7 linked regions of the Homo sapiens genome follow. The protein of the gene in region 7 purifies or fractionates together with the protein of the main gene of each other region. This does not show direct contact. Each region holds a gene or a part of one and is shown on either strand. Other genes may lie near its edges.

Region 1 (4,695 bases), about 120 Mb from region 7:
TCTTCCGCCTCTGCCACTCCTGAGACAGCAAGACCACACCCACCTATCCCTCTGCTACTCAACATAAAGACAATAAGGATGAAGACTTTTATGATGATCCACTTCCACTATGTGAATGGTCAATATATTTTCTTATCCTTATGATTTTCTTTTTCTTTTTTTTTTTTTTTTTGAGATGAAGTCTTGCTCTGTTGCCCAGGCTGGAGTGCAGTGGCATCATCTCGGCTTACTGCAACCTCGGCCTCCTGGGTTCAGGCAATTCTCCTGCCTCAGCCTCCACAGTAGTTGGGATTACAGGCATGCACCACCAAGCCCGGCTAATTTTTTTTGTATTTTTAGTAGAGATGGGGTTTCACCACATTGGCCAGGTTGGTCTCGAACTCCTGACCTTGTGATCCACCCGCCTCAGCCTCCCAAAGTGCCGAGATTACAGGCGTGAGCCACCGCGCCTGATCCGTTATGATTTTCTTAACATTTTCTTTTCTCTTACAGTACGTTATTAGTAGTTAAGCTTTTGGGGAGTCAAAGCTTATACGTGGATTTTTGACTGCACAGAGGATCAGTGCCGCTAAACTTTATGTTGTTCAAGGGTCAATTGTATACATAAACAAGAAATATGTTTGTGTGTGTATATGTTTCGAAAGAAATATACTAAAATGTAGTAGTTACCTCTGTGATATCAGGTTATTTTTATTTTATTTATATATTTCTGTACTTTCCAAGTTTTCTAAAGCAAAAGCTGTAACTTGTTTTTTATTTTTGAGACACAGTCTCATTCCTGTCACCCAGGCTGGAGTGCAGTGGCTCACTGCCGCCTTGACTTCCTAGGCTCCAGTGATCCTCCCATCTCAACCTCCTGAGTAGCTGGGACTATAGGAATGTGCCACCACACCCTGGTAGAGACAGGGTTTCGCCAAGTTGCCCAGGTTGGTCTCAAATTCTTGGGCTCAAGTGATCCACCTGCCTCAGCCTCCCAAAGTGCTAGGATTACAAGCATGAGCCACCACATCTGGCCCAAAAGCTGTAACTTTTATAATTGGGCAAACTTACTAAGAAAGGCAAAAAATGTTCAAGATATTTTCTACAAAGAATTCCTTGTAATCCAGTTATTATTAACTCCAAGGACACCTGCTTCAGAGTAAAGGAAAGACTAAATGTTTCCCTGGATTCCTTCTAATGACTTGTCTTCCCCATCTTTACTGACCTCTCAGGCCAAAAAACCCTAGGAATCACCTTGGATTTCTCTTTCCCTATATCTAGTTAATCAGCATCCTGCCAGTTCAAGCTCCAACAGAGAACCCAAATATGACCAATTCTGTCTTCACTGCTATGAACTCTAGTCACAAGCAGCAATGTCTTCTAACTTGTCTCCCTATCTCTACTTTTGCCACGGCTCCCAACAGACCTTTCTCCCCCCTCACACAGCATGCTGAGTTAGCTTTTTCTAATCAGATCACGTCCCTCTTTTGCTTAAAGTTCTTCATGGCTGCCTGCCCAGTGCAATTAGGCCCAACATGATCTGGCCCCTGGCTATCTCTCTGGCCTTACTGTCATATTACTTTCCCTTGTTTACTCTCCTCCAGTAATTCAGGCCCCACTAGTCTGTAAACACTGCCAACCTTGTTCTTACCTCAGGGCCTTTGCAATAGCTAGTCCTACTGCCAGGAATGTTTTCCCCAAATCTTCCCATAACTGATACCCTCTCTTTATTCAGGACTCATTTCCAATACTGTCTCCCAGGAATAGATAACCACTCTATCTAAAGAAATATTGTTCCCCTAATTGCCTATTCCTTCCAGCTGTGCTCAACCAGAATTCCTCATCCAAACCACAGAACACAGAAAATGATTTGAGTGATAATTTTCTCAAGTCTTGCAAAATGGGGCAAAAGTAGTATCATTCTTTTTTTAATTTTTTATTTTTATTTTTTATTATACTTTAAGTTTTAGGGTACATGTGCACAATGTGCAGGTTTGTTACATATGTATGGGCAAGGACTTCATGTCTAAAACACCAAAAGCAATGGCAACAAAAGCCAAAATTGACAAAAGTAGTATCATTCTATTATAGCTGCATGGAAAAAGTTAATTTATTAATACAATGGATGCCTAAGGACAGAAGTACTCAAACTTTTGGTCTCAGTACTCCTTTACATTCTTAAAAATCATTAAGGACCCCAAAGAATGTTTGTTTACAAGGGTTACTTACATTGATAATTACCACATTTGAAATGAAAACTGAGAAACTTAGTATTAATTCATTTAAAAGTAAGAAAACAATTACTTATCTACATAAATGAAAAAGCTATTTTCCAAAACAAAAAATGAAAATTTAGTAAGATGAATAGCCTTGCTTTATGTTTATACATCTCTTAATGTTTGGCTTAATAGAAGACTGCTGGATTCTTACATATGCTTCTGCATTCATTCTGTTGCAATATGTTGTTCTGACTGAAGTGTATGAAGAAAATGGGCATTCACACAGACACGTATTGGAAAAGGAAGACTTAAATGGCTTTTTCAAATAACTGTGGACATTTTTCTTTGATACTACACCAAAACTTAACAAGTGGTAGTTTTTTAAAGGTTAACTATAACATAGACTCAAGCCATACTAATGAACTTTTTGTGGCATTATATTAACATTCACTGGTTTATCATGCATGTAGAATGGACTTTCAGCCATGCATAATTTTGTAATATCACATATAAGTCATTTGAAAAATGCCAGTTCACTGAGTTATGCAGAACTTCTAAACATTGGCACGTTATTATACAACATCAAAAAAATTTTTTTTTTTTTTTTTGAGACAGAGTCTCACTCTGTCACCCAGGCTGGAGTGCAGTGGCACAATCTTGGCTCACTGCAAGCTCCGCCTCCCAGGTTCATGCCATTCTCCTGCCTCAGCCTCCCAAGTAGCTAGGACTACGGGCGCATACCACCATGTCTGGCTAATTTTTTGTATTTTTTAGTAGAGATGGGGTTTCATCGTGTTAGCCAGGATGGTCTCCATCTCCTGACCTCATGATCCACCCACCTCGGCCTCCCAAAGTGCTGGGATTACAGGTGTGAGCCACCGTGCACAGCCAAAAAAATTTTTTAAAGAGACAGGGTCTCGCTCTGTCACCCAGGCTGGAGTGTGGTGGCACCATCAGAGCTCACCATAACTTTGAACTCTTGAACTCAAGTGATCCCCCCACCTCAGCCTCCAGAGTAGCTAAGAGTCTTGGCATATGCCATCATACTCAGGCTAATTTTTGTATTTTTTGTAGAGACAAGGTCTTGCTATATTGTCCAGGTGGTCTCAAACCCCTGGCTTCAAGCCATTCTCCCACCGCAGCCTCCCAAAGCACTGGGATGACAGGCATGAGCTGCTGCGTGTGGCCCTCACATTTGTGAATGTTGCCATCCATTTAATCAGAAGAGATTTTAAGTACTGAGAAGCCATCATGCTCACGATGACAAAGTTTTCCGTAATTTCAATTTTTGCTTGAAAGTTTTAATTTTTTTCATTGGCAATAAACACTATCAACTGTTTTCTTCTAAATAACCATAGTTGTCATTCCTTTCAAATAAATATTGTCTTTGAAAAAAGTGGCTAGCTCAGTCCAACTTGAACAATTACACAAGATTGTTCATCACACTTGGGCATGGGGCAGACACACTTTTTGTGTGCTTCCCATTTTGTCACACAGAATACTAAAAAGGTGCGTACTCAGGGTCAAGGGTTAACAAAATTAATAATTTTTATCTCTTCATAAAGGAAGTTCTTAAGTTCAAATGGCATTAAACATTTTTTTATTGTGACATCTACTAGTAATTTATTGCCTCTGCCTTGATTCTTGCTAAGATACAAGTAGTTCTACTCCTCAATGCTGCTGCACCAACAGTGCAAATGTCAACACAGTGAAAAATGGCAATTAATCACTTAGTATTATCAGAAAATATTTTTGAACTCAGGCAACTCCTAAAAGGGCCTCAGGGATAAAGTTGCCAGACTTAGCAAATAAAAATACAGGATGCCCAGTTAAATTTGAATTTCAGATATACAATAAATACTTTTTTTAGTATAAATGTGCCCCAAATATTACATGGCATGTACACATACTAAAAACACTGTTTATCTGAAATTTAAATTTAACCGGATGTCCCATATTTTATCTGACAACTATATTCAGGAATCCACATTTTAAGAACCACTGCTTTAGGGCAACAGGCATTAGGTTCAATTTGGAATGGATTAATACTCAAGTACTAATACTTAAGCTGATTAAGGGCTTAATACTTTGTGGTTTCTTTATAGAAAATATCATTATCTGAAATTATCTTAGTTTATTTGCATCACTTATTGTTTTCCTCCCTCAAGAATGTAAGATTCATAAGGAAGGGATCTTGTCTGTCTTGCTCATCACTATATTCCTAGCACTTAGCACAAAAGAAATTCAGTAAATATTTGTTAAATGGACAAGTGAATAAATAAGAAGCGTTGTAATGCAAATGCTCACAGAAAATGAGCAACTAGAACTGAGACAGAGGAAAGATCCCAAGGTTCTGCGATATTGATTGCAAGAGCTCCCATTTGCAAGGTACCCACTGTTTCCTCAAAAGGACGGAGGCCCAGGAACACCCAGAGTGGGCTTGGGAAAGCCCGGTGGTCTAGGTTTCAGCCCAGAAAGGGCTTAGGGACTATGGACA
Region 2 (4,695 bases), on a different chromosome or scaffold from region 7:
CCAACCGGGGGTCGGTGGAGATGTGAGCCAGGCGCTGCCCCAGGGTAGTCAGGTACTCCCGCTGGTCCAGCACCCCTGCAACGGCTCAGCTGTCAGTACCACCCTCGAGAGCCACTCCCCAGCCCAGCCCAGCCCAGCCCCTACATACCGATCTCCTGGAGCAAGATCACAGCCTCGTCCACTGCCTTGATGTTTGGACTGTCCACAGCCTTGGACAGGAACTCCACCGCCTATGACAGAGCCAGAGCCCGCCATGAGCCTGCCTCCCACCTGCCTGGTCCCCAGGCCAGCCCCTGCCCCGCCCCGCCGCACCGTCTTCTCAGGCATGTGGATTTTCGCTTGCAGCACCAGGTTCTCAAGAGGTGTGCGCAGGATCTCTGGCACTTGGAAAGGGACCATTTTCTCCAGCCGGCTTCGAGGGAACAAGTGGTAGGCAAAGCCGGACTGGCAGCGGCCCGCCCGGCCCCGGCGCTGGATCACATTGGCTCTTGATACCCACACTGTCTCCAGGCAGGACACCTGGAGGAGGTGGCAAGTAAGCAGCACACAAATGCCACTTCCTCAGTGCTTCCCCACTCCCTGAGTAACCCTCACCAGCCCCCTACATCAGGAACACTGAGACCCCACAAGCGCGGCCTTCTGAAGACACACAAAGCAGGTCTAAGGTAGATCTGGGCTGGGGACCACCTCAAAACGGAGTCCCTCCCCCAGTGGTTGGCCGGGCCCAGGAGGTAGGTGCCACCTTGGTCTTCAGGTCATAGCGTTCTTCCTTGTGCAGCCCACTGTCCACCACATGCACGATGTCATTGATTGTGATGGAAGTCTCAGCAATGTTGGTGGCCAAGACAATCTTGCGCACCCCAACTGGAGGCTGCTGGAATATGGCCTTCTGATCCATCATGGGGATGTTGGAGTGCACTGGTGGGCAAGACACACACCAGTTATGGGCACTGCTTCCACCAGAATTCCCCCCTGGAATGTGGGCAGGGCAAGGATTTTGACCCCATTTTGATGAAACAGGCGCAGATAAACACTATGCCCAGTGAAAAGTGCCACAGCTTGGTCAGAAACCGGGGCCCCTGGAGTCCCAGTTGGGTCAGTCCCTAGGACAGAGGTCAGGCTGGTTTCCAAAGGTCCCTGGTCCCTCCGCCGGGGCTCTCACCTGGCAGGATGAGGTACTTGCTCTCGTGCATGCCCAGGGCCTCCTGGAGGCGCTGCTGCACTCCTTTGATCTCCTGCCACCCAGGCAGGAAGCACAGGATCCCACCTGTAAAGGAGCCCTGGGGCATGAGCCAGCTGTTGCTGCAAACGTGGCCAGGGCTAGCATGGGACAGATGGGGAGGCACCCACCTGGTTCCCCGCGAGCATCGATGTGCAGAACCAGATCAGTCACAAGGTCCAAATCGAGTGCGCATTCATCCTCAGACTGGGGTGGGGGAAGAGAGGCCACAGTCACAGCCCCGGGGTAAGGGGTCATGCCAAGGACACAGCCACCTGACTCAGTGAGACGGAGCCGCTTGACATCAACTCCAATCCTCACGTGTGCCACGCAGGCAGGGTTAGTCCCCAGTTTCTATCAAGGAAACCGAGGACTGGGGAGGGTAACTTGCCCCAGGCACCAAGCCCCAGGGCCAGGGAGGAGGGGCATCCACGGAGGAAAGGCCAGGAGCCTTGGGTGGGATGGGGGTGTCCCTCACCTCATGGTGCCGGTGCCGGTGCAGGTACTGGTGCTTGCCCAACTTGGCCAGGATGTCCTCTAGGTAGTGCTCCTTGACTGGGTACATGAAGCCAGGCACCTTGATGACGGGGCAGCCACCAAAGTATCGGGAGAAGCGCTCATTGTCCCCTGTGGCACTCATGAGCACCAGCCGCAGGGCCGGGTTGAGCCGCTGCAGGCCCTTGAGCAGGATCAGCAGAAAGTCTGTGTTCACGTCCCGCTCATGCACCTCATCCACGATGACGTGGCTCACGCCCTCCAGGCTGGGGTTGCTCTGCAGCTTACGCAGCAGGATACCCACAGTGCAGAAGAGCAGGGCCCCGCCTCGGGATGGGGGCTTACTTTCCAACCGCACCTGGAAGCCCACATTCCGGCGCAGGGAGGGGCCCAGTTCGTGGCTGACCCGCTGTGCCACAGACACAGCAGAGATGCGGCGAGGTTGGGTGATGATAACATTGCAGCGGGCACCTCGGCCCTCGGTCACATAGCGCTCCAGCAACAGCTGGGGGATGCGCGTGGTCTTCCCACAGCCCGTGTCCCCAGAGATGACCACCACCGGGTGCTGCTCAATGGCGTTGAGGATGGTGTCCCGATGTGGGTCCACAGGTAGCTGGGGGGCCTCCTGCCAGACCGGCCCTCGCCGCCGCCACAGTTCTAGCAGACTCTGGCTGAGACGTACCTCCTCTGCTTCCAACAGGGGCACATAGGGCTTGCCTGTGATAGGGTCACTCAGAGGCCCTGAGTCCTTGCCCAAGGGCAAGATGTCATCACTCTGCAGCCGGAGTTCTGGGGCGATCCATGAACTCTCCACAGGGTACTGGAGGGCAGGGAGGCAAGCAAAACAATGAAAAAGAAATTCCTCATTCACACACAACCAGCCACTCTGCAGGATTCGCCTGGGTCAGATGTTGTGGCCCAACCCGCTGGGCAGAGGATTAATTTAGTCCATGACTGCCCCGGGATCCTTGTGGGCAAGACTGGGCTGTTCAGGCCAGGGGGATCCCAGGCCCCAAACTCAGTGAAGAGAATGGGGAGGTACTACTGCCTGTCGCAGGTGGAGGCCTTCAGTCTGGAGAGATGGAGGCAGACTACAGGGAGCAGGGGTGGTGAGGGATGCAGGGCCTCTTACATGGTTCAGGAAGGTCTCTATCTTGCGGAGGATGGGCTCGGGCACCTGGATGGTGCATGGTCGGCGCTGGGTCTCACCCAGCTCACGCAAAGAGGCCAGGTTATACATGGCGTGTGTAAGCGGTTCGTTGTTCCTGTCCACCAGGCCCAGGCTCTGCAGGGGGACATGCAAGACTCAGTCTATGCTCTGGGGCTCCCCAAAAACCAGCCCAGACAAGCTCAGGAGCTCCAACGCATAAGTTGTGCCAAGTAATCTCTAAGAGATTTTGGATTTTGGCTGACATGGTGATGGAGGGAGAAATTATGAACTAGGAAAATGTTAACTTACCAAAATAAACGTTTTAAAAAATGAACTAAAGTTAATTCAGGCCGGGCGCGGTGGCTCACGCCTGTAATCCCAGCACTTTGGGAGGCCGAGGCAGGCAAATCACCTGAGGTCAGGGGTTCGAGACCAGCCTGGCTAACATGGTGAAACCCCATCTCTACTAAAAATACAAAAATTAGCCAGGTGGGGGGCCGGCACCTATAGTCCCAGCTACTAGGGAGGCTGAGGCACGAGAATCGCCTGAACCCTGGAGACACAGGTTGCAGTGAGCCGAGATCATGACGGTGCACTCCAGCCTGGGCGACAGAGCGAGACTCTGTCTCAAAGAAAATAATAATAAAGTTAATTCAAGAAAAGCTAAACCTGATGTGTCACAGCAGAACAGCCCTACGTCTGGAGAAGGCCCTGAGGAGAAACCACTCACTGTGTGGCTACAGCCCCCCCAACACCACAATAGGCCACTGTCACCTCTGTGAATTCCCAACATGTACCCTCAGACCAGCCAGGCCAGGCCCTCGATGCTAGAACGCACCCCACAGACTCCCTCTTCCTTTGCTGCCTCATCAAAGCCTTCCTCCCCTAATCCTTCCATCCCGCCTCCCAATCCCTACATGGCACCCGACCCATCTGTGACCCCATCATATACAGATGCACGTGGAATTTCCTGTAAATGTCGATTATAATGCAACTTGATCAAACAAGCCACTGGAAGGAAAACACTGTGTCTTACCTCCCTACATACCTAAAGCCACCTCACCAGAGATAAAACATAGCATTCCAATACCTCACGCACATGGGTAAAACTAGTCTTGTGTTCCTGTCACCTCTAATGGCTGGACTCTGCTCACCCTTCGGAGCCCAGATCAAACACTCCCTCCTTAAAGAAGTCTTCCCCCAACAGGGGCCAACCCCCTGCCTCTGGGCGTGCTGGCACCATCAGCTATAAGGACCTAAAGGACAGGAATCTGGTCCTCATACCACAGGAGGTGCCAACACAAGCTCCTTGCTGCAGGAACAGGCTTCTGCCCTCTCCCCAGACTTCATGGGTTTTACCCACCAGCCTCACTGACAAATGGCCCTCCAGCCACTGCAAAGCTTGCTCCTTCCCAGACAGGCCCCTACCATGCCAAGGTGCTTCTGCTCACAGTGCGTGTGCATCAGGCCAAAGCTCAGATGCCTCCAGTTCTACTCAGTCCTTGTTCTGCCCTCGAGTCACAGGTAGCATATCTGTGCCCTCTTTATCTCACCAATTGCCTGTCCCCTCTTCCTCGTCTTTCTCCAGGTTCTTGTTACCTCTCACCATCAGCTGTAACTAAAACATGGTTCCCAGAGCCAACTGTACCCATGAAATGGTGCACCTGACCATTCAGAGTAAAGCAGGCCCATTTCTATCTTGGTCTGCAAACTAAACCTCCACCAACATGGGTTGAGATTACTAACTCCTCAGGCAGTCAGAGACAATCCCAACTCCCTCCCACTACTGTGCCATCAGCTAACTCCACCAGCCCCTTTCAAGAGAACGGCC
Region 3 (4,695 bases), on a different chromosome or scaffold from region 7:
CAAAATGTAATGAATGAATGCCATTAAAAATACGCAATTCATTCTTTCACTAAATGTTCACCAAGCTGCCTATTACATTGTGCCAGGCACTGCTGCAGGTACTGGGAATACAAACGTAATCAGGTATCGAAGTCCCTGACCCAGTGGTGATAAGAGCTAAGAAGAAAAATAGCCAGGTGCCGTGGCTCATGCTTGTAATCCTGGCACTTTGGGAAACCGAGGTGGGAGGACTGCTTGAGCCTAGGAGTTTAAGACCAGCCTGGGCAACATAGTGAGACCCCATTCCTACAAAAAATTAAAAAACTGGCCAGGCGTGGTGACGTGTGCCTGTAGTCTCAGCTACTACTCTGGAGGCTGAGGTGGAAGGATCACTTGAGCCTGGGAGGTTGAGTCTGCAGTGAGCCGTGATTGCACTGCTGCACTGCAGGCTGGATGACAGACTCAGACCCTGCCTTGGGGCGGCGGGGGGCAGTGGGGAGAACTAAGAAGAAAAATGAAGCAGGGTAAGAGGGATGGAGAGAGGGAATCCAAGGTCAGGACTTGCTAGTCTATATAGGGTGGTCTGGGAAGGCATTTCCACCACAGTGATCTGCGGGAAGAGCACTACAGAACATAAGACCCAAAGCAAAGAGTACATGACATGTTTCAGGAAGTGAGGACTGATGCTGGAAGGGAATGAGTGAAGAAGGGGCAAGTGATGAAAGATGAGGTCAGAGGTTAGGTGGACAGAGACCAGATCAAGTGCGGTCTTAGAGAACACTCTAAGGACTCTGAATTTTACTCTGCTAAGAAGTTACCAGAGGGCTTTAAGTAGGAGTGATAGGAGACCAGTTAAGAGGCTGCTGCAAAAATCTACATGAGAAATGATGATGTATGGTCCAGGCCAGCAAGAGACGAGGCGGTACAAGCATTTAGATCTGGACATAGGTTTTTTTTGTTGTTTCTTTTTTTTTTTTTTTGTGATGGAGTCTTGCTCTGTTGCCCAGGCTGGAGAGCAGTGGCATGATCTCGGCTCACTGCAACCTCTGCCTCCCAGGTTCAAGCGATTCTTGTGCCTCAGCTTCCCAAGTAGCTGGGATTACAGGTGTGCACGATGACGCCCAGCTACTTTTTGTATTTTTGGTAGAGACTGGGTTTCACCATGTTGGCTAGGCTGGTCTCAAACTCCTGACTTCAACTGACCCTCCCGCCTCGGCCTCCCAAAGTGCTGGGATTACAGGTGTGAGCCACTACGCCCAGCCAGTTTTTTTTTTTTTTTTTTTTTTTTTGAGACATGGTCTCACTGCATTGCCTAGGCTGGAGTGCAGTGGCTCTTGCTCAATATAGCCTCGACCTCCTGGGCTCAAGCAATCCTTCCACCTCAGCCTCCAGAGTAGCTCAGACCACAGGAATGCACCACCACACCCAGTTAATTTTTTTTTAAAGAGATGGGGTCTCTCACTATGTTGCCCAGGCTGGTCTTGAACTCCTGCGCTCAAGTGATCCTCCCAAAGTGCTGGGATGACTGGTATAAGCCCCCACACCCAACCTGGATGCAGCTTTTTTTTTTTTTTTGAGATGAAGTCTTGCTCTGTCACCCAGGCTGGAGTGCAATGGTGCAATCTCAGCTCACTGCAACCTCTGCCTCCCAGGTTCAAGCGATTCTCCTGCCTCAGCCTCCCGAGTAGCTGGGGATTACAGGCGCATGCCACCACGCCCAGCTAATTTTTGTATGTTTAGTAGAGGCAGGGTTTCACTGTGTTGGCCAGGCTGGTCTTGAACTCCTGACCTCAGGTGATCCACCTGCCTCGGCCTCCCAAAGTGCTGGGATTACAGGCGTGAACCACCGCACCCAGGCAGCTTTTTCTTTTTGAGACAGTCCTGCTCTGTTGCCCAGGCTGGAGTGCAGTGACACACTCATCTTTCACTGCAGCCTTTACCTCCCAAGGCTCAAGTGATCCTCCCACCTCAGCCTCCCCAGGAGCTGGGATTACAGGCACGCACCACCATGCTCGACTAATTTTTGTACTTTTTTTTTTTTGTAAGAGATGGGGTATCCCTATGTTACCCAGACTGGTCTCAAACTTCCAGGCTCAAGCAATCTGCCCACCTTGGCCTCCCACCCAAAGTGCTGGGGTTACAGGCATGAGGCACTGTGCCCGGCCAGGACACAGTGTTTAATTGTCAAAGGATGTACTAGTACATTACATGTGGGGTCACAAAAAGACATTTACTTTTTAGAGACAGGGTCTCACTCTGTCGCCCAGGCTGGAGTACTGTGGCACAATCACAGCTCACTTGCAGCCTTGAACTCCTGGGCTCACATGATCCTACCATCTCGGTCTCCCAAAGTGCTGGGATTACAGGTGTGAGCCACTGCAACCAGCCAGAAAAAAAAAAACAGAGGTGGCAAGGATGATCTTAAGGTCTTTAGTCTGAGCAATTAGAAGGACAGAGTTGCTAAACGTCTCCTGAGTCTCACTTTCCTCATCTGTGAAGTGGGAATAAAAAGAGCATCTGCTGGGCCAGGCGCGGTGGCTAACATCTGTAATCCCAGCACTTTGGGAGGCCGAAGTGGGCAGATCACCTGAGGTCAGGAGTTCGAGACCAACCCGACCAACATGAAGAAACCCCATCTCTAGTAAAAATACAAAAAATTAGCCAGGCGTGGTGGTGCATGGCTGTAATCCCAGCTACTTGGGAGGCTGAGGCAGGAGAATCGCTTGAACCCAGGAGGCATAGGTTGCGGTGAGCTGAGATCGTGCACTGCACTCCAGCCTGGGCAACGAGAGAAACTCTTTCTCAAAAAAAGAAAAAAAAAAAAAAAAAAGCATCTGCTCAGCAGATCACTTGGGCTAGAACAGGTGAGACACTCAGTAAATGCAGTAAATGGTGACTATTCCAGTACTATTACTTATCTCTGAATTATCAAGAGCCTAAATAAATTAGTTTAAGTGAAAAGCAGAGCAAAAACCATACAGAGCCCTATCTCTATCAGATCATTTATCTAGATGGCTCCTGGCTACTGTGGGACTTAATTTCCTCTGAGAAGCTTGCAACTCCATTCTAAGGCAAAGAAAAAGGCAACTTTGAGTGGCTGGAATGTATGTCTTGAGAGTAAGGTGGTTACCACTAGTTTGGAGAATAATTACAAAGTGGCCTGTAAACAAGGCCTGTCATGGAGGAATCATCTAGGTTTACTAACAGCACATCAAACTGAGATGGAGAAGTCCCATGCCATATATGACAGATCTACCAAGCTGGCTTTACAAAATTCATCTATGAAGACCCACAATCCTCCCCTCCCCACACCTAGGGCTTTGCCAGTCTAAAGGTTCAGCCAAGAAAAAAAAGGTGCCACACTAGGACTGTCCTTGATTCTGGGAACATCCTTCAGGAAGACATCCCAGGCTATTAGCCATGTGAAGTTGGCCACTTGCCCCTGGTAACTACCACAAATAGCCCTTGTTGAAAATTCAGCTAACTCCTGATTATCCACTCAGTTCCGGAAAGGCACAGATAAACCCTCAGAGTGAGTAATTACCAATATCTGGCTTTGGAATGCAATCTTCTGAAATAAAAAAAAAAACTTACATCTTACCTCTGTGTAGGAGGTTTTTTTGGTTTTTTTGTTTTGTTTTGAGATGGAGTCTTGCTCTTGTCACCCAGGCTGGAGTGCAGTGGCACGATCTCAGCTCACTGCAACCTCCGCCTCCCCGGTTCGAGCAATTCTCCTGCCTCAGCCTCCTGAGTAGCTGGGACTACAGGCACACGCCACCATGCCTGGCTAATTTTTTTGTATTTTTAGTAGAGACGAGGTTTCACTATGCTGGCCAGATTGGTCTTAAAACTCCTGACCTCATGATCCGCCCGCCTCGGCCTTCCAAAGTGCTAGGATTACAGGTGTGAACCCCCGCGCCCAGCAGGACTTTTTCAATTCATGAACTGTACTGCCCCATACTCAACAGCAATTTGACGCTCTAAACAACCTCAGCACCGGGATTAGCCCCATTCTGTGAATAAGGAAAACAGGTTAGACAAACAATCTAAGGTCACAAAGTGAGAGCAGAGAGAAGTACCCTGCCCATGTTCTAATTTAAATCCCATCACCTTCTCCCTTCACATTGATGTGCTGTTTCCCATGTTTTCACCAGCGAGGTACCAAAACTTACTTCCTTTCTTGAATCCCAGGCAAGGTAAGGCCATCCTCTCTCCTGGCCACTCCCTTAGATCACTCTGGACCAGCCAGGGAGGTTTTTGAGTCTGGACTGAGGCACCTGCTGAACCTCCAGTGGCCCCAACACCCTAATTACTCCCTTTGAGCTGTCTTGGGTTTTGCAAACAGGGGAACTCCCATCTGCCAAGCTCTCCATCTTAAAGAGGTTTTGTAGTTTCAGGCCGGCTGCTCCTCCTCCTCCTCCCACCCTGCCCACCTCCCAGAAAAGAGAATGGGTGCTCAGTAACAGCTATTAAGATTGCTTACTCCAGTTCAGGTCCCACTATAGACAGTGGGTGGGTCAGCAGAAAGACCCCGACCCTCAGGAGGTTCAGAGTTCAAGAAAGCTTGTGACTACCCTCTACCTCCCAAAGGGCCAAAAACCACTTCCTAAAAACCTTCCCCTACCTGGCAGGCACTCACTTCCGGGTTAGTATGAAACTCAAACTACCTGTGCAAAAGGAAAGGGGCCAGGCCAGCTGAAGGCTCCCGATGAAAGC
Region 4 (3,369 bases), on a different chromosome or scaffold from region 7:
TGGCGGGTGCCTGTAATCCCAACTACTCGGGAGGCTGAGGCAGAAGAATGGCTTGAACCCGGGAGGCGGAGGTTGCAGTGAGCCAAGATCATGCCGTTGCACTCCAGGTTGGGCAACGAGCGAAACTCCGCCTCAAAAAAAAAAAAAAAAATCCGTCTTTAATCTTCATAGAGAAATACCCTGAAAATTTCAGACTGATTCTTACAGATACAATATCACTTATAGACTGTTAGAGAATACCTGTTTTTGCTGGGTTTCCTGAAACCATCAGTGGGTACTGACAAGAAATTAGGGCCTCCCTCTTCAGCCATGCCAGGAAAATCTTCCTCCCTAACCAGAAACTGTAATTGATATGTCCTCCCGATTTACTGGAATATGTGAAGGTAATTTATATCCATGGGCCTCCAAACTTAAGAATATGTTGTGCTAGAGATGAAAACTGGTGAATAAGACACCGAGACCTGCCTCACAGAGACTAAGAACTATGTACCAAGAGTAAAAAAGGTGGCCATATTGTTGTTATATTATCATTGAGTCAAAACCTCTTTAAAAAATCTATATTCCAGGCCGGGCACGGTGGCTCATGCCTCTAATTCCAGCACTTTGGGAGGCTGAGGCGGGCGGATCACGAGGTCAGGAGTTCGAGACCAGCATGGCTAATATGGTGAAACCCTGTCTCTACTAAAAATACAAAAATTAGGCCAGGCGTGGTGGCTCACACCTGTAATTCCAGCATTTGGGAGGCCCAGGCGGGCGGATCATGAGGTCAAGAGATCGAGACCATCCTGGCCAACATGGTGAAACCCCATCTCTACTAAAAATACAAAAAAATTAGCTGGGCGTGGTAGCGCGCACCTATAGTCCCAGCTACTTGGGAGGCTGAGGCAGGAGAATCGCTTGAACCTGGGAGGCGGAGGTTGCAGTGAGCCAAGATCGCGCCACTGCACTCCAGCCTGGGCGACTGAGTCTCTCTCAGTCTCAAAAAAAAAAAAAACACACACACACACAAAAAACACAAAGCACAGAGTAAGGGATCAGTGTGGTCAAGGACATGAAGGAAATGGAAAAGGGATAAATGTTATAATTAATTAGGCCTGAAGATGAAAGTTTTCTATTATTAAGAGAGTTGTACCAGTCTGGGCAGCATGGAGAAACCCTAGCTCTAGAAAAATAGAAAAAATTAGCCAGGCATGGTGGTTTGCACCTGTAGTCCCAGCTATTTAAAAGGCTAAGGTGGGAGGATCGCTTGAGCCCAGGAGTTCAAGGCTGCAGTGAACCACGATTACGCCACTGGACTCCAGCCTGGGCGGCAACAGAACAAGACCCTATCTCAAAAAAACCAAAAAGATAGTTGTGCAATAATTAAAGAAAAAAAAAAAAACAGTAAAATAAGAGCAAATAAAATCCTGTTTGCTTCGATATGTTTCTTATCTGAGACATTTTTCTCCCCTTTTTAATTCCCTGGTAAATTTAAAGTTCTGAAGGTTTTGAACAATGTTTTGCCACCATAGAAGGAAAGAGCTATATATAAATCTACAAAGTTTGAAAAAGGACAGTGTTTAACTTTTTACAAAAGTCATCTTTACCAGTTAAAGTAACTGCCAAAGCATAATGTTTTGACTGTGGTGGAAATTAGCACTTACATGTGGAATATAGTTGTTTTATATGTAAGGATCTGAAGGTCAATAAAGGACTTCACTCTCTCAGTACTCTTAGGATCAGAAACAAGTTTTTTCTTTCTTTGGTTGGTTTTTTGAGGAAGGGTCTCAGTCCGCTGCCCAGGCTAGAGTACAGGGGGCATGATCATTATCTTGGCTCGCTGCAATGTCAACCTCCTGGGCTCAAGCAATCCTACCTCTGCCTCCTGAGTAGCTGGGACCACAGGTGCCTGGTACCATGTCTGGCTAATTTTTTTATTTTTGATAAAAACGGGGTCTCACTATATTGCCTAGTCTGATCTCACACTCCTGGACTCAAGCAGTCCTCCTGCCTTGGCCACAAAGTGCTGAGATTACAGGCGTGAGCTACCACACCTAGCCCTATTTTCTTCTTTTGTTTTTAACCCTTTTTCCTATTCAGAAAAAAAAGTGCGGCGGGCACAGTGGCTCACGCCTGTAATCCCAACACTTTGGGGGGCCGAGGTGGACAGATCACGAGGTCAGGAGATCGAGACCATCCTGGCTAACATGGTGAAACCCCGTCTCTACTAAAAATACAAAAAATTAGCCAGGCATGGTGGCAGGCACCTGTAGTTCCAGCTACTCGGGAGGCTGAGGCAGGAGAATGGCATGAACCCGGGAGGCGGAGCTTGCAGTGAGCCGAGATCGCACCACTGCACTCAGCCTGGGCAACAGAGCAAGACTCCGTCTCAAAAAAAAAAAAAAAAAAGCGGGGGGGGGGGGGGAAGGCCGGGTGCAGTGGCTAGTGTCTGTAATCCCAGCACTTTGGGAAGCCAAAGCAGGAGAATCGCTTGAACCCAGGAGTTCGAGACCAGCCAGGGCAACATAGGGAGACCCTGTCTCTACAAATAAAAAAAAAATTTGCTGGGCATGGTGGCATACACTTATGGTCTCAGCTATTCAGAAACTGAGGTAGGAGGATCGCTTGAGCCTGGGAAGTCGAGACTGCAGTGAGCTGTGACAGAGCCACCGCACTCCAGCCTGGGAGACAGAGAACCTGTCTCAAAAATAATACTAAGTGGGAAGGCTAAAATGAACCCTGTAGTGGCCGGGCATGATGGCTCACGCCTGTAATCCCAGCACTTTGAGAGGCCGAGGCGGGCGGATCACGAGGTCAGGAGATCAAGACCATCCTGGCTAACACGGTGAGACCCCATCTCTACTAAAAATATAAAAAATTAGACGAGTGTGGTGGCGGGTGCCTGTAGTCCCAGCTACTCAGGAGGCTGAGGCAGGAGAATGGCGTGAACCCGGGAAGCAGAGCTTGCAGTGAGCGGAGATGGCGCCACTGCACTCTAGCCTGGGCGACAGAGCGAGACTCCATCTCAAAAAAAGAAAAAAAAAAAAAAATTAACCCTGTAGTATTGAACTAGAATCAGAGATAACAGTATAAACTCATGGTTTTTAGGAAAGATGGATAAATGATGGATAGTGAGGAAGGATAAGACAGATACAGAAATACAGTTGTGTATATAAGCATCATTAGTATCCATACATGTATTTCCTAACTTTATTTGCTGAGAGGGCCTACAGGCAATGATAACCTACTTGCTAACAATGAGCATGCTTAGCACCCACATCTTGAAAACTGGGGCTCCTTGGAGAAGTGACTAATTTTCAGGGCTAGTGCAGGCAAAATCAATGTCATTTGGGAACATCTAAGTATTAACACTATCAAAAAGTAAGGAAA
Region 5 (3,500 bases), on a different chromosome or scaffold from region 7:
CTTACATATAACCTATATAGGCACATCCTCCTGTATATTTTAAATCATCTCTCGATTACTTATAATATCTCATACAACATAGGTCTTATGTAAATTGTTACACCGTATTGTTTAGGGAATAATGACAAGAAAAGTCTGTACAGTGTTTAGTACAGATACAGTTTTTTTTTTTTTACCCCCCCGAATATTGTCGATCCACAGATGCAGAACCCACGGTTACAGAAGGGTGACTGTATAATGTGAAACACATAAGTAATTTAAAATTTACTAGGAGTCACATTTTTTAAAAGTTAAAAACTAGTGAGATATTTTATGTTCTTTTTTTTTTTTTTACTAAATTTTCAAAATCTGGTGTGTTTTAAACTTGCAGCACATGTCATTTTAGAGTAACTACATTTTAAGTGTTCAGTAGACACGTGCTTTGGGTTTCTGGAACAGTGGTCAGGAAACTCAGGATGATGTTCTGTGGCAGTCATATAGATGGAAGAGTGAGGAACTACAGGAAAGGGGAATGGAGATAATAACTTAGAACATTTACTGAGCATTTAAGATGTGTCATGCACTGTGTTAAGTGCTTTATGTTGATGAAATCGGTTGTCACAACCACCCTGGGGTAAGTACCATTATTCCCATGTTACAGATGAGAAAACTCAGCCTCACAGAGCATAGACAGCTTCCCTAAAATTACACAACTGAAATGGTAGTGTATGGATTCCAGGCTAGTTCTGTGTGTTGTTAAGCATTCTGCTACACTGCTTTGGTATGTGCAGCAGAGTCCTGGAAGTAAGTCCGTGGAAGGCAGAAACAAGGTTTATATGAGCCGTTGTGGCCAGAGATTGACATTTGGATGTATACCACAGTTCCTGTCAGGTTGTGAATCTACAAGTCCAGAATTCAAAACGACTTGGATAAGTCATCCATCTGGGGCTGTGAACAGACCACTGCCCATGCAATAATAAATAGACCCTTAATGTGGGGATTAGGGGCATTGGTCCCCTGTGCAGTCGAAAATCCATGTATAATTTTGAACTCCCCCCAAACTTAAACGCTAATAGCCTATTATTGGCTGGATGCCTTACAGATAACATAAGCAGTCTATTAGCACATATTTTGTATTATATACTTTATTCTTACAGTAACATAAGCTAGAGAAAAAATGTTATTAAGAAAATTGTAAGGAACAGAAAATATATTTACTATTCATTAAATGGAAGTGGATCATCATAAATGTGTTCATCTTCATCTTGACTTTCAGTAGGCTGAGTAGAAAGAGGAGGGGTTGGTCTTGCTGTCTCAGGGTGGCTGAGGTGGAAGAAATTCTGTGTATAAGTGGACCCCTACCTTCAAATTTGTGTTAAAGGGTCAACTGTATATCCATTACCCCCAAAAAGATACCCTGGGTTTTTTTTGTTGTCCCTCCCTCCCTCCCTCAGTTCTTGTTCCTCCTCAGGCAACCACTGATAGGCTTTCTATCACTATAGATTAATTTGCATTTTCTTGCTTTCTTTTTTTTTTTTTTTTTGAGACGGAGTCTCGCTCTGTCACCCAGGCTGGAGTGCAGTGGCCCAATCTCGGCTCACTGCAACCTCCGCCTCCTGGGTTCAAGTGATTCTCCTGCCTCAGCTTCCCGAATAGCTGGGATTACAGGCACTTGCCACCACATCTGGCTAATTTTTGTATTTTTAGCAGAGACGGGGTTTCACTATGTTGGTCAGGCTGGTCGCAAACTCCTGCCCTCATGACCTGCCTGCTTCGGCCTCCCAAAGTGCTGGGATTACAGGTGTGAGCCACTGTCCCCGGCCTAATTTGCGTTTTCTAGAATTTTATATAATGAAATCATATAATATGTACTGGAGGGGGTGGTATCTGAGTCTTTGACTCAGCATAATTTGAGATTACGCCATGTTATTACAATTACTAGCAGTTCATTCCTTTTTAGTGATGAATAGTATTCCAATGTGTGGGTAGAGCAGTTTGTTCATCTATTGATGGACATTTGTGCTTTTTCTTGTTTTTGGCTATTACAAATATAGTTATTGTAAATACTATTGTACCAGTCTTTGTATGGATATGTGCTTTAATTTCTATTGGATAAATACCTAGGTGTGGAATGGCTAGGTCTTGTGGTAAATGTAACTTTTAAAGAGTTTTCCAAAGTGATTATACCATTTTACGTTGTCACTAGGTGGTATGAGTTCAAGTTGGTCCATATTCTTGTCAATAACTAGGTATGCTCAGTCTTTAATTTTATTTTAGACTTTTAAAATTTTACTATTATTTCCTTGTCATTTGAATTTGCATTTCCCTAGTGACTAGCAATGTAGAGCATTTTAGCATATGCTTATTTGTCTGTTTGATTATTTTGCCCATTTTTAAAATAGGGATGTTCTGTTGTAGAGTTTTGGGAGTTCATTGTGTATTCTAGATACATGTCCTTTATCAGATGTGAGATTTGCAAATTTTTCTCCCAGTTTGTGGCTTATCTTTTCGTTCTCTTAACAGTGTTTTTCAAAGAGCAGAAAGTCTTTATTTTGATGAAATCCAAATTAGCCTTGTCTTTTATGAATTTATGCTTTTGGTGCCGTTGGTGTTTTATCTAAGAACCTTTTGCCTAATTCAAGATCACAAAGATTTCTCCTGTGTTTTGTTCTAGAAGTGTTAATAGTCTTAGGTTTTATGTTTTGGTCTCTGATCCTTATTGAGTTAACTTTTATTTAGAGTGAGAAGTATGGATCAAAGTTTGTGGGTTTTTCTGCATATGGCTAATTATTTCAGCACCATTTGTAGAAAAACTATTCTTTCTCCACTGAGTTGACTTTGCATCTTTGTTGAAAGTCTGTGACCATATAGGTGTGGGTCTTTCTCTGGAGTCTTTTTGTTTTCCATTGATCTGTTTGTCTAGTCTTTATGTCAGTTTCTTATTCTCTTGGTTATAATAGCTTTATAATAAGTCTTAAAATCAGGTAGTATGAGTCCTCTAACTTTGTTCTTTTTAAAAGTTATTTTGACTGTTGTAGGCCTTTGCCCTTCCATATGGATTTTAGAATCCGTTATATCAGTTTCTACAAAAAAAGTAAGCTGATATCTGGATTGGGATTCTGTTGATTACAGAGCAAATTGAGGATAGATGACGTCTTAACAATATTTAATTTTCCAGTCTATGAATATGGTATCTCTCCATTTCTTTAGATCTTTAACTTTTCTTAGCAATGTTTTAAAATTTTCAGTATATAGATTTTTCACATCTTATGTTAGATTTATCCTTAAGCATTTTATATTTTTGATTCTATTGTAAATGGTAATTTAAAATTTTTTATTTCCGATTGTTTGTCGCCAATAAGTAGAAATATGATGGATTTTTGTATATTGATCTTGTGTCCTGCAACTTAGTTCCACCAAGTAGTTTTCTGAGGATTCCATGGTATTTTCTGCAAAGATGATCATTATCCAGTCTTGGATGCCTTTTGTTTTTCTTGTTGTATTGCAGTGGCTAACACCTT
Region 6 (5,436 bases), on a different chromosome or scaffold from region 7:
AAGGCCACTTAAATATTTTACTCTGTAGTAAGATAGCTAATTAACAAAAACTAAGAGTCAATTGAAGAGAACTCATTAAGGAAGTGGGTCATTTCAAACGCTTTTATTTACTTGTGATGACAATTAAATAAAGAACAAACTCGTCATCTTTCTTTGATGAAAAAATTGTTTGATATTCTGAGAACAAAAGTGATGCCATACTGCCATTAAGAAACTGATTCAGACTCGATCTCTCAACAAGGTAAGACATCAATGTTCCCATCAAGAGCTGCCCATAATACTGCAGTACACTTCTCTGGCACCATTAAAAAAAAAATCTCTTAGAGATGATCCTGAAATCTCTTCTAAAGACATGAAAGAGGTGTGCTTGTATAATCTGGTATTACAAAGAAATGAGAAATTGCCCTGATGACGAATCTCCAGCTCTAATCTCAATTTGCTGAAGTAGAGAGGCAATTCATCTTACCCATTAACTAAGAATTAGAAAAACAATTTGTGTTTTTCTTTGAGTCATTTAACTCAAATACCACTATATAAAGGAATAGAATGAGACATTCGCATGAATTTGAAAGGTAAATAAAACATCAGACTTCAAAGAAATTCCATTAGAATCGGGGGTTACTTTTTTGTTTTCTTTTCCTCCACCTCCACCTTAAGGAACATGAACGGCATTTGGCCACAGTTTATGTCTTTCCAATTTTATCTTCCACCATCTACCGCTCAGTTCTCCTCACTTCCAGCCAAACAATGTATGTTCCCCAAACACGCCTTCACAATTTCGTTCTAGTTGGTGTCTACCTCTAGTATATGTGTAGTCAATTTATACACACATTCCCCACGATCTTGAAACGTCTTGACATCCACAAGCAAATCTAGGTTTCTAACATAACACTAACTTTGTAAGTCTGTCCATATAAGGTTTTAGCAAACCTAGTAAAACAGAAAACGCACTATTATCCAGGCTTATATTCTGAGATTTGAAAAACCCCTCTATCTGCTACCTTTGGGTTTCTGAATTTACATACCACTCTCAAGTATACAGTATTCACGATTTCTAAGAACTGGAGAGTAAACCTAGTCCTCTAACAATGGCATTTTATTTGTTGAGTTAGGGCACTACCTGCCCACGATGAGGATAGTTAATGAAACGCTGCCCGGTAACGACGATTAAAGGCTTTGATTGAAAACGTATTAGGCCTTAAGAATTTTGCGAACATCTAATTTAACCCTAGTAACTGTGGCGTGGGTTCTTTCAGAATTTACACGCACGTGGGAGACCGCGAAGCGCAGGCAGCGTTAAAACTAGGGCGCTGGAGTCACCCCCGTACCCCGAATGCCGTCGGCGCTCCAGGGCCCCCAGAGGGTGCGGGGGGCGGGGACGCTGTGACGTCACAGAGCGCCCTTCTGACGTTCTCACGGACCCGCTTTGCCTCGGGGGCCCACGCTGGAGCCCACCCAGTACTACTAAGAAATGAGGAGGAAAAAGGGGCGCCGGCTCTCGTAGCGCCTATTTTCTCGGCAGAGGGACCCACGTGCTCGCTTTGGTGGACTCTGCGCCCGGCGAGTACCGCCGGCCTGAAGCTTCCCGCCGCCGCGTCCACGCGACCCAGCCAGAGAGGGCTCAGTCAGCCGGCGCGGCACCTACAAGCTCAGTCGGGATCCTGGAGAGGCGGGAAGGCAGCGGGGCCCTTTCCACAGAGAGAACACAGCTCTTCGGGAGATTCCCCCGCTGCCCCCGAGCCCTGCTCTCCCGCCTCGGCCTCTGAGGACTACCCGCAGGGCGCAGGCAGCCGCGAAAGACTCAGCCTCCTTCCAACTTCGCGAGGGCCGAGGGGGCGGGCCCCGGGCGCGCGCGCGGCGAAGCCCCGCCCCTGCCCGCGCGGCCTGCTGGATTCGCCCCGCCCCTCGCTGTCGCCCGCCGCCCGCCACCCGCCACCGCTCTTCCTCCTGCGCCACAGTCCCGGCGGCGGCGCTGGTCGCGGGTCGCACCGTGAGGCTCGCGTGGGCGGCGATAGGCGCTGGGCCCGGGCCCGGTGAGGAGCGCGCCGCGCGTCCCCTTCTCCTCAGGAGTGGCGGGCCGCGGAAGTGACGTGGTGCACGGGCAGGAGCGCGTTTGAATCGGTTCCCGGGTGATCCTCGCGCCTGCCGCTGCTCGGCCGCCGCCGCTGACGAGGAGCTGCAGCGCGCCGGGCCGAGGCCTCGAGCCGCCCCGGGAGCTGGAGCTGAAGGCGCCGCGCGGAGCGCGCACCTCAGCCCTGAGCCCGGCGGCGGCAGGCGTCGCTGTCTTTTCTCCTTTTCCCCAATATGGCAGCGGCGGACGGCGGCGGGCCTGGTGGGGCCTCTGTGGGGACTGAGGAGGATGGCGGAGGCGTCGGCCACAGGACGGTGTACTTGTTTGATCGGCGCGAAAAGGAGTCCGAGCTCGGGGACCGGCCTCTGCAGGTCGGGGAGCGCTCGGACTACGCGGGATTTCGCGCGTGTGTGTGTCAGGTACGCGAAGGGGCGAGGAAGGGATGCGCGTGTAGACTTGGGGGCGGGAGGGTGATGAGAAACTCAACTTGCTCACTGAGGGCAATAAACCTGTCACCCGGTCCCGGTCCTGCGGCCTTGGCTTCCCTCTCCCGTGTGCCCGCCATGTCCGTGACCTGGTGGCCGGACGCCTCGGGCGGGCCCTGGCCCGGGCCTCGAAGTGCAGGGCCGGCTCCCCCGTGGCCCTCCCTCTGCCTCCGCTCCTTTTACGGGAGGCCTTGCCGGCCCGGGTGGAGAGCTCAGCGTTTGTTGGCCCTGGGCGAGCTTAGCCCGGTTGCGGCCCTGCAGTCTAGGGAAAGCCGTTGGTGGTGTCTGTTTTTACTTTGTAACTTTTTTAAAACGAGAGAAGGGAGTTAACGCCCAGGGGCTCTGTTGTGAGTGTTGCGACGGTGGGAAGTTGTGAAATGCCCGGAGTCATCTCCCCCAAGTTCATTAGATGATGCGGGGTGTCCCCGGGTTGCCCTGTCGAGGTTGCAGGTCCTTCTGGGGCGGGGCGGCGGGGGGGATCCTTCCGCACGGAGACACTTGTCCAGGTCAGCTCTGCAGGTAGAGCTGGCCTTCTGCCTGTCTGAGCCCTAACCCTTGGGAATTTCCAAACCAAGTCAAAGGTTGGTATGGGTGGCTGTGGAGCACCAGAAAACGTACCTACCCCGTGTATTGGTTCGCTTTGAAAATGAACGTGGAGGGAAATCCGCTTTAAACTGTGATGTACTTTATAGATATGAGGTGGTGGCATTGCCTGAGCTTTGAAGAAGGAATATTGTCATGCTCTGAATTAACCATATGAGGTCCCTTTTTAAGCTGTTAAGAACACTTAGCGTCCAAGGGAAAAAAAGAACTTTGAAGCCGTGTTTTGTCGTGAGGCTGATAGGTTTAGAAATGTTCTAGACCATATAACTGTATGGTTGCTGAAATAATTGAAATCGTGATCCGTAGAATGAAAACGATTGGAGAAGTAAGGACTTTCTTTTGTTCACAGCTGTAGTCCCAGCGTCTAGAACTGTGCCTGCGACATTGTAAATGCCCAGATTAGAATGGATAAATGAATGAAGACAAAAACCTATCCCCTCAAGTTAATTCTGTGCCTGAACGTAGTAGATTCCCGTTGTGTTTGAAAAGTGAATGAATGCTCATCTTTTTTGTTGAATGCTTTCTATTCAGAACCATTCTACAAAAGGGAAACTTTTTACGTTTATTGTGTTTATAGTAAAAATATCAGTACATTAAAGAAAATATGGAACCAGAGGGGGGAAACAAGTAAATCTTTTACTCGCTGTAAAACTACTATATGACTACTCTTAGCACCTGAGGTTATGTCTTTTCAGCCTTCCTCCTCCTTCCCACTCCATTTTTTAAATTACTAAAATATGTGTTTTATATTCTATTAATTTTTTCACTTAATAGTGTCAGAAGTTTCTTTAAACGTAGGTCTTCAAATCAAAATTTGAAATGGTCCATTTGCTACCACTATTTACATAACCGAATCTCTCCTTTCTGTTGACATTTACATTACTTTTAATTTTTTTGATTTTAAGTAATGCTGTAATAAACATTTTCCCAGGCCCAAATATTCCCGGGCTCAGGTGATCCTCCCACCTCAGCCTCCCAAGTAGCCAGGACTACAGGTGAGCGCCACCATGCCCAGCTATGTTTTTTTTTTTTCGTATTTTTCGTACATACGGGGGTTTGGCTGTGTTGCCCAGGCTAGTCTCGAGCTCCTGGGCTCAAGAGATCCACCCGCCTCCCAAAGTGCTGGGATTACTGGCGTGAGCCACTGCACCCAGTGGAAAAACATCTTTGAATACATAGCCGTTTATGTCTTTTATTATTGTTTGCTTAGTTTGAAATCTTAGAACTGGATCAAAGATGAGATACATCTTTAAAGCTCTTGTTTCGTATTTTAAAATTGCTTTTTGAAAATGTTTTGCTACTTTACCCTTCCTCTAGAAATGCACTATTTCCCTCTCGTGAGATGTCTCAGTAACTCTTAGATAAATAGAGGAAGTATTATTGGCCTTTTATTACAGAAGTATAAACACAGTCGTGGAAATGGTGACTCATTACTCAGATAGTAAAGCTCAAGTTAGTATTCAAACCCAGAACCTCTGTTCATTCTGTTATACTACTCAAATGGCATTCTTTGCTGTAGGGAACAGATGTATTTATTCCTTCCTTCAATATTTCAACTGGAAAACCAAGGAAAATATTTCTTTTAACTAATTCTGTTCCTCCTTCCTCCCACTTTATCCTGCTAGAAAACGTTTTAAATTTAGTTAGAAATGAGAGGGACCAACTAGTAAGAAAAAAGAAGGCTGAGAAGGCTAACTTTTTTGTTGTTAGACTTCTTTTAAGCATTATTAGATTGTGCCTCGGATCCCATAACTTTGTCTCCATTACGTACTCGAAGAACTGAATTAAGTCAGTGAATTAATAATCTGAGATTACATGGTCAACAAGCAGTGAAACTGGGATTGGAATTTAGGTCAATTTGATTCCAAAGCTTATGTATACATATACATATATATGTGTGTGTGTATATATATGTATATGTATATATACATATATATACACACATACACACATATATACACATATATACGTGTATACGCATATATACATATATACACATATATACACATATATATACACACACATATATATATTTTTTACACTACTCCACACTATTTATTAGAACCATCACTTTTGTCCTTAGGGGAAGAGACAAAATAATATACTAAAGTTTTTGTTAAAATGTAAATTAAACCAATAAATGTTTGTAGTGTCAGGCAGTATTATGGGTGATCCTAAACTGTTACTTATTTATTTATTTTTTTTGAGACGGAGTCTCGCTCTGTTGCCCGGGCTGGAGTGCAGTGGTGCCATCTTGGCTTACTGCAACCTCTGCCA
Region 7 (4,695 bases):
CTCTTTCCCCTCATCCTTACTGGACTCTTAATAAACAGATGTGGGATGACTTAACATTAATATCCCACACCATCAATAATGTCAGGTTCTGAACTCTATTTGAACCCAGTGGCTCACACTACATTTTCTGATAATGACATTAAAATTGACTATGACTATGGCACAGTGGCTCACGCCTGTAATCTCAGCACTTTGGGAGGCTGAGGCTGGCGGATCACGAGGTCAGGAGATCAAGACCACCCTGGCTAACACAGTGAAACCCCGTCTATACTAAAAATACAAAAAATTAGCCAGGCGTGGTGGCGGGCGCCTGTAGTCCCAGCTACTCAGGAGGCTGAGGCAGGAGAATGGCGTGAACCCGGGAGGCGGAGCTTGCAGTGAGCTGAGATCCCACCACCGCACTCCAGCCTGGGTGACAGCGAGACTCCATCTCAAAAAAAAAAAAAAATTTACTATGACACTGTCAAAAGTCTTACCGAGGGTAGTGGTTTAAAGTACATACAAAACTCTTTGATATGCCTTCCTTCAAAAGGTAGAGCCCAATCCTCTCCCTTTACATGTGGGCTGGACTTAGTAACTTAGTCCAGAATCAGTGGAAATAACAGTATATGACTTCTGACACTAGGTCATAAAAGGCATTGTGGCTTTTCCTTGCCTCCTCTGTTAAATTGTTTGCTCTGGGGAAAGCTAGCTGCCAAGCTGCAAGGATACTAAAGTATCCCTATGAAAAGGCCCATGTGGGCCAGGCGGGGTGGCTCACGCCTGTAATCCCAGCGCTTTGGGAGGCAAAGGCAGGTGGACTGCCTGAGCTCAGGAATTTGAGACCAGCCTGGCCAACATAGTGAAACCCCGTCTCTACTAAAAATACAAAAGTTAGTGGGGTGTGGGCCGGGCGCGGTGGCTCATGCCTACAATCCCAGCACTTTGGGAGGCTGGTGTGGGCTGGTCAGGAGATCAAGACCATCCTTTCAACAAGGTGAAACCCCATCTCTACTAAAAATACAAAAATTAGCTGAGTGTGGCGGTGCATGCCTGTAATCCCAGCTACTCGGGAGGCTGAGGCAGGAGAATCACTTGAACCTGGGAGGTGGAGGTTGCAGTGAGCTGAGGCTGTGCCACTGAACTCCAGCCTGGCGACAGAGCTAGGCTCTGTCTCAAAAAAAAAAAAAAAAAAAAAAAAATTAGCCAGGTGTGGTGGTGCATGCTTGTAATCCTAGCTACTCTGGAGGCCAAGGCAGGAGAATCTCTCGAACGCGGGAGGCAGAGGTTGCAGTGAGCTGAGATCATGCCATTGCACTCCAGCCTGGGTGACCAGCAAAACTCCGTCTTGAAAAAAAAAAAAGGCCAAGTGGTGAGAAACCAAAGTCTCCTGCCAACAGTCATGAGAGTAAGACCTCTTAAAAACAATACTGGGCTAGGCACCATGGCTCACGGCTGTAATCTCAGCACTTTGGGAAGCCGAACCGCGTGGATCACCTGAGGTCAGGAGTTCGAGACCAGCCTGGCCAACATGGTGAAACTCCGTCTCTACTAAAAATACAAAAATTAGCTAGGTGTGGTGGCGGGCGCCTGTAATCCCAGCTACTCCGGAAGATGAGGCAGGAGAATCGCTTGAACCCAGGAGGCGGAGGTTGCAGTGAGCCGAAATTGCGCCACTGCACTCCAGCCTGGGCGACAAGAGCAAGACTCCATCCTAAACAAAACAAACAAAAAAACCCAAACAAACAAACAAAAAACAATGCTGGCTGGGCACTGTGTCTCACACCTGTAATCCCAGCACTCTGGGAGGCCGAGGTGGGCAGATCACTTGAGGTCAGGAGTTCGAGACTAGCCTGGCCAACATGATGAAACCCTGTCTCTGCCAAAAATATAAAAAATTAGCCGGGCATAGTGGCACGCAGATGTAATCCCATCTACTTGGGAAACTGAGGCAGGAGAATTGCTTGAATCTGGGAGGCAGAGGTTGCAGTGAGCCGAGATCTTGCCACTGCACTCCAGCCTGGGCAACAGAGGGACAAGACTCGGTCTCACACACACAAAAAATATCCTGGAGTCCCCATCAAGTCTTCAGATGACTTGCTAAAATTTTGACTGCCATCTCATAAGTGTCTCTGAGATAGAACCATCCAGCTAAGGCACTCACAGAATCCGGAACCCCAGAAACTGAGATAATAAATGTTCACTGTTTTAACCTACTAAATTTGGGGATGGGCCAGTTTCTGGGGCTCATGCTTGTAATCCCAACACTTTTCGGAGGCCAAGGCAGGAAGATTGCTTGAGCCCAGGAATCTGAGACCAGCCTACGCAACATATTAAGACCCCCATCTCTACAAAAAACTAAATAAATGAGGTGGTGCATCCCTGTGGTCCCAGCTACTTGGGAGGCTGAGGTGAGAGGATCATTTCAGCCTGGTAAGTTGAGGCTGCAGTGAGAAGTGACCACACCACTGCACTCCAGCCTGGGCAACACAGTAAGACCCTGTCTCAAAAAAATAAATAAAAAATAAATTTGAGGGTTACTTGTTTAACATCCACAGATAATACACCTAGTCATTTCTGAACTAGGAGGATAGAAAAGCCCTACCCAATTTTTTTTTAAGGTGGAGTCTCGCTCTGTTGCCCAGGCTGGAGCGCAGTGGCGGGCTCTTGGCTCAGTGCAACATCCACCTCCCGGGTTCATGCAATTCTCCTGCTTCAGCCTCCGAAGTAGCTGGGATTACAGACGCACACCACCATGCCCAGCTAATTTTTCTATATTTTGTAGACATGAGGTCTCACTAGGTTACCCAGGCTGGTCTCAAACTTCCAAGATCAAGCAATCCTCCTACCTAAGCATCCCAAAGTGCTGGGATTATAGGCATGAGCCACTGCCCAGCCAAGAGTCATTTTCAAAGCATTATTTTTAATCAGTGACATATAAAGCTATCAGAAGTATGTCTTTTACCTTTTTCCTCCAACCCACCCCTGAACAAATTTATAAACAAATTCTTACCTGCAGCGGTCTCCATAAATACAGTACCCTCGCTGAAAATACTTGCACACTACACTATACGGACTGTCAGAGAGGTCATGCGAGTAGCGACAGTTGTCTCCTTCCTTACAAACCCCATGCATAAAATACCTGTGAGACGAAAGACCACAAAACTGGATTAAAACCAATCCTTGAAAATATTAAAACTAATTAGTATTCATGACTAATATATTCAACCAGTAAATACACAAACATACGAAATAAACACAAAGAAAGGGCCAGGCATGGTGGCTCATGCCTGTAATCCCAGTACCTTTGGGAGGCTGAGGTGAGTGGCTCACCTGAGGTCAGGGGTCTAAGACCAGCGGTTCGAGACCAGCCTGGGCAACATGGTGAAACCCCGTCTCTACTAAAAATACAAAAATTGGCTGGTGTGGTGGCACACATGTTAATCCCAGCTACTCAGGAGGCTGAGGCAGGAGAACTGCTTACACGTGGGAGGCTGAGGTTTCAATGAGCCGAGATCGCGCCATTGCACTCCAGCCTGGGAGACAGAGCAAGACTCCATTTCAAAAAAAAAAAATAAAAAGAAGGTGATAAGAAAACAGGAGTAAAGCAAGTGTATTAGTCCGTTTTTGCATTGTGTTTTTGCTTTGTAGCTGGGACTACAGGCGCCGCCACCACGCCCGGCTAATTTCTTGTATTTTTAGTAGAGACAGGGTTTCACCATGTTAGCCAGGATGGTCTCGATCTCCTGACCTTGTGATCTGCCCACCTCGGCCTCCCAAAGTGCTGAGATTACAAGCGTGAGCCACTGCGCCTGGCCCTTGTTTTTGCATTGTTACAACGAACTATTTTGACATTCCAGCCTGGGTGATGGAGCACGACTATGACTCTGTCTCAAAAAAATGTAATAATAATACGCCTTAGATTATGAAAACTGTTTAACTTACATAACAAAAAGAAAAAAAAAGGGCCAGGCGTGGTGGCCCACACCTGTAATCCCAGCACTTTGGGAGGCCAAGGCGGATGGATCACGAGGTCAGGAGATCAAGACCATCCTGGCTAATATGGTGAAACCCCATCTCTACTAAAAGTACAAAAAATTAGCCGGGCATGGTGGCAGGCACCTGTAATCCCAACTACTCGGGAGGCTGAGGCAGGGATTGCAGTGAGCCGAGATCGTGCCATTGAGCCACTGCGCTCCAGCCTGGACAACAGAGAGACTCCATCTCAAAAAGAAAAAGAAAAAGAAAAAGAAAAAAAGATATAGTCTACGTCAAAGAATTTCTCCTCCAAACAAAAACCAATGAATATAAGTATATGTCTTGTTTTTAAATGATACCACCAAAAAAAAAAAAAAAAACATCATCCAGATTCACCCCAAGTTGAGTTTGCCTTCGGTGAAAACCTGGGCCATATATTATTTCTGAAGTTCCTTCCACTGTGCAGACTCTGTCTCCATGAGACACTGTGCAGTAAAAGACAAAATTTACTAGAATCCCCCTACTGCTGTGCCTCTTAGAAACCTAATAGTGGCCCCCAACATAGAGAACAAGAAACTGCCAAGTTACCCTGTAAGGGTACAAGAGAACCAAACAGCACCCTCAGAGTATCTCTAGGCATCTTAACAACCTCTTTAGGAATTTCTACAAATTATAGAATAGATAAGGCATTTAATCAATTCATCTGCAGTGACACTTCTTACTTTGATATTTAACTTT

What was found.
Region 1: the proteins of MKRN1 (region 7) and NUP42 purify together in Homo sapiens (affinity purification with mass spectrometry; one large-scale study listed by BioGRID and IntAct). This does not show direct contact.
Region 2: the proteins of MKRN1 (region 7) and DHX30 purify together in Homo sapiens (affinity purification with mass spectrometry, with the first as the bait; one large-scale study listed by BioGRID). This does not show direct contact.
Region 3: the proteins of MKRN1 (region 7) and LARP1 purify together in Homo sapiens (affinity purification with mass spectrometry, with the first as the bait; 2 studies listed by BioGRID). This does not show direct contact.
Region 4: the proteins of MKRN1 (region 7) and DRG1 purify together in Homo sapiens (affinity purification with mass spectrometry, with the first as the bait; one large-scale study listed by BioGRID). This does not show direct contact.
Region 5: the proteins of MKRN1 (region 7) and DDX24 purify together in Homo sapiens (affinity purification with mass spectrometry, with the first as the bait; one large-scale study listed by BioGRID). This does not show direct contact.
Region 6: the proteins of MKRN1 (region 7) and SMCHD1 purify together in Homo sapiens (affinity purification with mass spectrometry, with the first as the bait; one large-scale study listed by BioGRID). This does not show direct contact.

The regions. Positions count from the first base shown.
Region 1 is NC_000007.14:23,188,024-23,192,718, reverse strand, and holds part of NUP42 (nucleoporin NUP42), read right to left. Parts: intron 1-4,695.
Region 2 is NC_000003.12:47,844,004-47,848,698, reverse strand, and holds part of DHX30 (ATP-dependent RNA helicase DHX30), read right to left. Parts: intron 3,000-4,695; coding exon 2,847-2,999; intron 2,535-2,846; coding exon 1,698-2,534; intron 1,427-1,697; coding exon 1,351-1,426; intron 1,268-1,350; coding exon 1,163-1,267; intron 919-1,162; coding exon 743-918; intron 520-742; coding exon 313-519; intron 231-312; coding exon 149-230; intron 76-148; coding exon 1-75.
Region 3 is NC_000005.10:154,761,169-154,765,863, reverse strand, and holds part of LARP1 (la-related protein 1), read right to left. Parts: intron 1-4,695. UniProt on the Homo sapiens protein: RNA-binding protein that regulates the translation of specific target mRNA species downstream of the mTORC1 complex, in function of growth signals and nutrient availability.
Region 4 is NC_000022.11:31,430,055-31,433,423, reverse strand, and holds part of DRG1 (developmentally-regulated GTP-binding protein 1), read right to left. Parts: intron 1-3,369. UniProt on the Homo sapiens protein: Catalyzes the conversion of GTP to GDP through hydrolysis of the gamma-phosphate bond in GTP. Appears to have an intrinsic GTPase activity that is stimulated by ZC3H15/DFRP1 binding likely by increasing the affinity for the potassium ions.
Region 5 is NC_000014.9:94,074,703-94,078,202, reverse strand, and holds part of DDX24 (ATP-dependent RNA helicase DDX24), read left to right. Parts: intron 1-3,500. UniProt on the Homo sapiens protein: ATP-dependent RNA helicase that plays a role in various aspects of RNA metabolism including pre-mRNA splicing and is thereby involved in different biological processes such as cell cycle regulation or innate immunity.
Region 6 is NC_000018.10:2,653,772-2,659,207, forward strand, and holds the start of SMCHD1 (structural maintenance of chromosomes flexible hinge domain-containing protein 1), read left to right. Parts: upstream 1-1,954; 5' UTR 1,955-2,304; coding exon 2,305-2,490; intron 2,491-5,436. UniProt on the Homo sapiens protein: Non-canonical member of the structural maintenance of chromosomes (SMC) protein family that plays a key role in epigenetic silencing by regulating chromatin architecture.
Region 7 is NC_000007.14:140,468,891-140,473,585, forward strand, and holds part of MKRN1 (E3 ubiquitin-protein ligase makorin-1), read right to left. Parts: intron 3,122-4,695; coding exon 2,993-3,121; intron 1-2,992. UniProt on the Homo sapiens protein: E3 ubiquitin ligase catalyzing the covalent attachment of ubiquitin moieties onto substrate proteins. These substrates include FILIP1, p53/TP53, CDKN1A and TERT.